Linked DNA regions of Homo sapiens: region 1 is linked to region 2. Evidence: fine-mapped expression QTL. A gene starts in region 2. The other region holds a variant in brackets. All regions are shown on one strand. Distances are between the middles of the regions.

Region 1 (2,500 bases), 39 kb after region 2:
AGGAGAATCGCTTGAACCTGGGAGGTGGAGGTTGCAGTAAGCCAAGATCATGCCACTGCACTCCAGCCTGGGCAACAAGAGCGAAACTTCGTCTCAAACAAATAAAAAAAATTTAAAAATTATGTATAAGCTCATTGAGATGAGCTTCACATAAGCAGTGTGAAGTGGCTGCAGAAAAGCTAATGTCACATACATAGAAGTGTAGAATCTGTGATGAGTTTGGTGAGTATGCTGGGTGAGTTCCAGCATCCCAGATGTTAATGTATTTTATTCTGAGCACTACACTTCCAGACAGAAAACTGGACTACCGTAAAATCAGAAGCTGGCAATTAGCATTACAAAGGATTTATGATCATGAAGAATACGGTTGAAAAGCGCTAGGGCGTTTACCCATGAAAAGAGAAGATTTGGGGACCCATCACCTGTTTACAGAATATGTTAATAGAGGAAAAAGCAGCCCCAAGGGCTGGTAGGTACAAGCCCCAGGAGGACAACATTGGCCCAGTATTGGGAGGAACTCGGAACCAGCCCAGAGAGTGAGGGTTTTGTCCCTGGAAAGTCAGCTGGTTGGCCACTTGGCACAGTCGTTGTGGAGGGATGTATCATATATGGGGTTGGTTAAGATAATGTCTGAAGTGCCTTCTAATTCTGACTTAGTTTCGTGATATTTACCTAATTTTGTTTATGTTTTTTTTTTCTTGTTTCCTTGACTGTTACAGATTTTAGAGGTGCTTTTGCAGGTTTTGCATGTCCTCTTGGGGATGTGCCAGGCCTTGGAGATTCAAGACAAAGGTACGAGTATCCTTAAGGTTTTTCTTAAAATGGTTTTGTGGTTACTCTTTCCCTTGCTTTTCTCCAGTCTTTTCTGTTGTTGGGTACCTAATATATATGATGGGAGAAAACCTTCCTATTTTAGTTTGATTTGTTGTGTGTTAGTATCCTCAGAGGCCACATGGGGTCATGTGCATTGCTCTGCTACATAGACGCTGGGTCACCTTGGACAAGTAACTTCACCCTTCTGGGCCCCAGTTTCTTCACCTGTAACATCTGTGGGTAGATTAGTTGACTTCCAAAGGTCATTTTTTCTGTGTTGTGAGGCTACCAATATGCTCCTAAGAGGAATAAATGTATAAGGTACTTGATAATATGGCCTAGCTATTTTATTGATTTGGGT[G/A]TGCCATGAATAGATGAAGACCTTCCAAGCAGGGCAGCTGGGTGTATTGAAGTCATAGTCTGAAGTTGTTAATGACAGGTTGAAGATATCACTTGTCAGCCCTTGGGGTGGACCCCATTATTGTGGCTTATTGTGAACCTTCACAGTTATTAGTGGGTGGGTTGTGAAATCTTAGTCAATGTTACAAGTTAGTACTTACTATATGACTCTATCAGGATACTTTCTTATATTGTAACGTTTTCACTTGATCTTCTAGAATACCTTTGCAAGTATGCTATCCCATGCCTGATAGGAATCTCGCGAGCATTTGGGCGTTACAGCAACATGGAAGAGTCTCTCCTCTCAAAGCTCTTTCCCAAAATCCCTCCTCATTCCCTCCGTGTCCTGGAAGAGCTTGAAGGTGTTCGAAGGCGTTCCTTTAATGACTTCCGCTCCATCCTCCCCAGCAATCTGCTGACTGTCTGTCAGGAGGGTACCCTGAAGAGGAAAACCAGCAGTGTGTCCAGCATCTCTCAGGTGGGCCTGGGCTACTGGGGAAAGAGCAGAGGAGAAAGACCCTGTTAAGCTCCCCTGCGAAGAAAATCCCTCTTCTTTGTAGTTGGAGTAAACTTAAGTAACGTGAAATGTTTCACTAGAATTCTCTTTAATACAAAGACTTGTCTTGTCCCTCTTAAGATGTTGGGGGGAAGGGCTTATAGAGTGCACATATAAACTGGCCATAAAAATATAAAACAATGAGGTGTAAAAAGCCACAAAAGGCCTCTAAAAAAAAAGCCTTATCGCCATTATGTTCCCATACTCTGAGCAAGACTTACTCTCTTATCCATAAACACTGTGTTAAAAAAAAAAAAACCACTCCTTTAAAACATGAAAATATGGCCAAACATACAGACTCCTAGTTAAGCCTGCTCCCACTAACTGCTGTCCAATAAGTTGAAAATATACTGTTTAAACACAAAAAAAATTCATTTAAACTGCCGCTACTATAGATTACACATATGACACACTGCCTCCCTTTCACCGTTTCGCCCTAAACATCTGCTTCTTAAATCTAAGTGATTATACTCAATAAATAGTGTAAAAACCAAAACTCTAGGCCTTTGCGGCCTCTGATTTGCTCTGGTCCCCTGGCTCCCGCCTTTATAAACTCTTAACCTGTTTCTTCTCATTCCTTTGTCGCCACCAAACATCAAATACCCTACAGGTGGTGTTGAGGCTAGTCCCCAACATAAGATTTATAAGTGATTTCATAGTCATAAAGTATATGTTTCATAGCAGTTGGGTGCCAAATGCTATTTTGCCTGGAAGACAGTTGGTGCCCTTAAG
Region 2 (3,009 bases):
GATTACAGAAGTACAACCGCGCCTGGCTTATACATTTTTTTAAACCTTTTTTTTTCTCTGTCCAAACAAAACTGTTTCATTAGCAGGCTGAAGAGAGACTGTGGTGTACAATAAAGAATCATTCTCGACCGGTATGGTGGCTCACGCCTGTAATCCCAGCCCTTTGGGAGGCCAAAGCGGGCGGACTGCCTGAGGTCAGGAGTTCCAGACCAGCCTGGCCAACGGGGCAAAACCCTGTCTCCACTACAAATACAAAAAAAATTAGCCGGGTGTGGCGGCGCACCTGTAGTCCCAGCTACTCGGGAGGCTGAGGCAGGAGAATCGTCTGAATCCCGGAGGCGGAAGTTGCAGTGAGCCCAGATCATGCCACTGTACCCAAGCAAGGGCGACAGAGCGAGATTCCATCTCAAAAAAAAAAAAAAAAGAAAAAGAAAAAGACCCTCCAGGATCTCGGTCTGTTGCCCATGCTGGAGTGCAGCAGCACGATCTCAGCTAACTGCAACCTCTGCCTCCCGGGTACAAGCGATTCTCCTACCTCAGCCTCCTGAGTAGCTGCGACTACAGGCGCACCGCCACACCCGGCTAGTTTTTTTTTTTTTTTAATTTTAGTGGAGACAGGGTTTCACCATGTTGCCCAGGCGGGTCTCGAACTCCTGAGCTCAGGCGATCCGACGCCTAGGCCTCCCAAAGTGCTGGGATTACAGGCGTGAGTCACTGCGCTCGGCCAGAATAATTGTTATTGAAGGTACTACTCTCTGAAATCTAAGGATGGGAAGAACTGATGAAGATGAGTTGGAGCAACAAACTCTTAACCCGCACACTATTTGTCTAGGATTTGGGAAGTAAAGGTAAGACCCTGGACTCAATCAAACCCAGGCTTTGGTCAACTAGGCAGCTGTCTGGGCTGAAGGGACTTCAATACCTCTATTGGTTGGTTAGGTGGAGATGTCAATGATGCGGGAAGAACTCGTGGACCACCTGCCCTGATGCTTCAGGGTATCACCTGACACTCGCAGGCACATAGTCCTCTCTTTCTGGCTCACTCCGGAAGGAATGGCCAAAACCCTGTGCCAGATTTTGCACAGGAAATAATGTCGAAGAAACGGACTCTCCATTTCCCAAACCTAGGACCTGCTGTTCAGAATTTTTACTCACCTGGACAGAAAATAATCTGGCGTTTCCCCGTGAGCTAGGCGTAAGAAAAAAAAAATCAACGAAGCAGACTAATAGCTAAGGAAGATTTCTGGGGTAAACTGCCCTCTTCAAGTACTCCAGATGCACATACCTTTACATAGTTAACAGATTGTTACCACCATCGAGTCACTAAGGTGCAAGAATCTATGCTAGGCAACTTGAGAATTCTCAAAAGATTGTGAGCAAAACATTTCTCGTCTCCGTTTGACAGCACAGAGACCGGCGAGTCCACACCAGCCCTGCCCCAGGCTCACCTCGGAAGAGGCGACCCCAACCTTCTCGGACTCGTACATGAGGGCCAGGGACCTGCTGGTGCTGGCGGCCGTGGCCTCAGCCCTGCGGAGGACCTCCTGCCGCAAGTACTGCTGCCTGTCCGCGGGCGCGTCGGGCCCGTCGGGGAGGTCTCGGGCGTCCCTCCAAGGGGCCGGCCGGGCGCCTTCGTCCTCCCCGTCGTCGTCGAACGGATTGTAGCTTTTAGGGTAAGCTGACATGGTGCCGGCGCGGCTCTCGGTCTGGGAAACAGAAGGAGGAGCCCCACTGCCGCCGCCGTCCAGGGCCTCGCCCCGCCCGCCGACCCCGCGGTCGTCGCGCGAACTCCTTCCGCGCGTCGCGCGCAGGTGGCCCCGCCCTCGGAGCCGACCATCGCGCAGGTCGGCTGGGGGGGGCCCACATCCGGCGCGCGCAACCGCAGCCTACTGTCCATCCCCTCTCTCCCCTGCAGCGGTGGGCCCGCCCCGCAGCCACGCCCTATCTAGTGTCAGCAACTGAGAGGTCACGTGGCGGGAAAGCCGGATGCACCTACGCCTGCGCCCTGAGGTCGGGCGCTCGCGGGCCAGGAGCGGGGAGCCGGCGGGCAGCGCCGCGGCTCGTGAGGTGATGGCGGCGGCCCCGGCCCGGGGAGGCGGAGGCGGAGGCGGAGGCGGCGGCGGCTGCTCCGGCTCCGGCTCCAGCGCCTCGCGGGGCTTCTATTTCAACACGGTCCTGTCACTGGCCCGCTCCCTGGCGGTGCAGAGACCAGCATCCTTGGAGAAGGTAACGTCGGCGGGCTGGGCCGCGGGCTGACAGGAGGAGGGGCTGGGGTGACGAAGCGTGGAGGCGGGACGAGGGTCTGTGGGAGGCCGAGGCTGGGCTCGCCGGCAGCCTGTGCGGGAGGGGGCGCCTGAGCGGAGGGATCTAGCGGGGGAAGGAGGCCCTAGTGGGAGGGGCTGGTGAAGAGAGAGGGACCGTGGGGGAAGGGTCGGCGGGGCCTGCAGGGCCGCTGCAGGTGGGTGGTTGTGGGATGGGGGTGGGGGATGTGAGCTGCTGGCCCAGGGAGCATCTTGTGACATCGCGGAGGTGGAGGCTGGATCGTGGGCGGCTGTGCGGAGCAGTGGGATGAGCCGAGGACCAGGGGTCAAGACCTGGGGTTCTGCTTCCGATTTCACCTGCTTTTTATTCCGCGACCTTGGGAAGATGGCTTTCTTGTAAAATGGGGATGCTTTTATCTGCTTTGCCGGCTTCACCGGACTGTGGTGACCAGGAGACGAAACACTGTCTTGAAAGTGCTTTGTGACTGTAAACCAACTGCGCAGTGTTATTCTACGAGGCTGGGGGCGTTAGGTTGGGTAAAAGATTGTGCGTTTGCAGAAGGGACAGTGGCAGGGAAAGGAGAGTGAACTGTCAGTGGGCAGAGAAGTGAACTTGGAATTGCTTCAGAAGAGAAAGGTGAAGTCATGCCAGAGCAATCCTCATCTTGGGAGAAAGGTGAAAGGCAACTCAGTGGTGTGCCTTGAGATCTGGAAAGAGACAGATTTTAGAGTGGGACCTGAATTTGTT

The links. PIP is the estimated chance that this variant, and not a neighbour inherited with it, causes the effect. A credible set is the group of variants that fine-mapping cannot tell apart.
Region 1: its variant is the best candidate, but not a certain one, in a credible set for the expression of SNAP29 in whole blood (INTERVAL, PIP 0.53).

The regions. Positions count from the first base shown.
Region 1 is chr22:20,818,831-20,821,330 of GRCh38, reverse strand. It overlaps PI4KA (phosphatidylinositol 4-kinase alpha), which reads left to right. Exons shown (of 55, transcript NM_058004.4): 5 at 720-792; 6 at 1,431-1,690. Among named protein-coding and RNA genes, the nearest start is that of PI4KA, 39 kb to the left of the region's middle. The variant G/A (reference allele first, on the strand shown) is at 1,175.
Region 2 is chr22:20,857,787-20,860,795 of GRCh38, reverse strand. It overlaps SNAP29 (synaptosome associated protein 29), which reads right to left and starts at 1,789. Exons shown (of 5, transcript NM_004782.4): 1 at 1,449-1,789. The coding sequence starts at 1,685. It overlaps PI4KA (phosphatidylinositol 4-kinase alpha), which reads left to right and starts at 1,985. Exons shown (of 55, transcript NM_058004.4): 1 at 1,985-2,226. The coding sequence starts at 2,071. RefSeq lists an enhancer at 1,058-1,867 and silencers at 1,547-2,306, 2,327-2,376.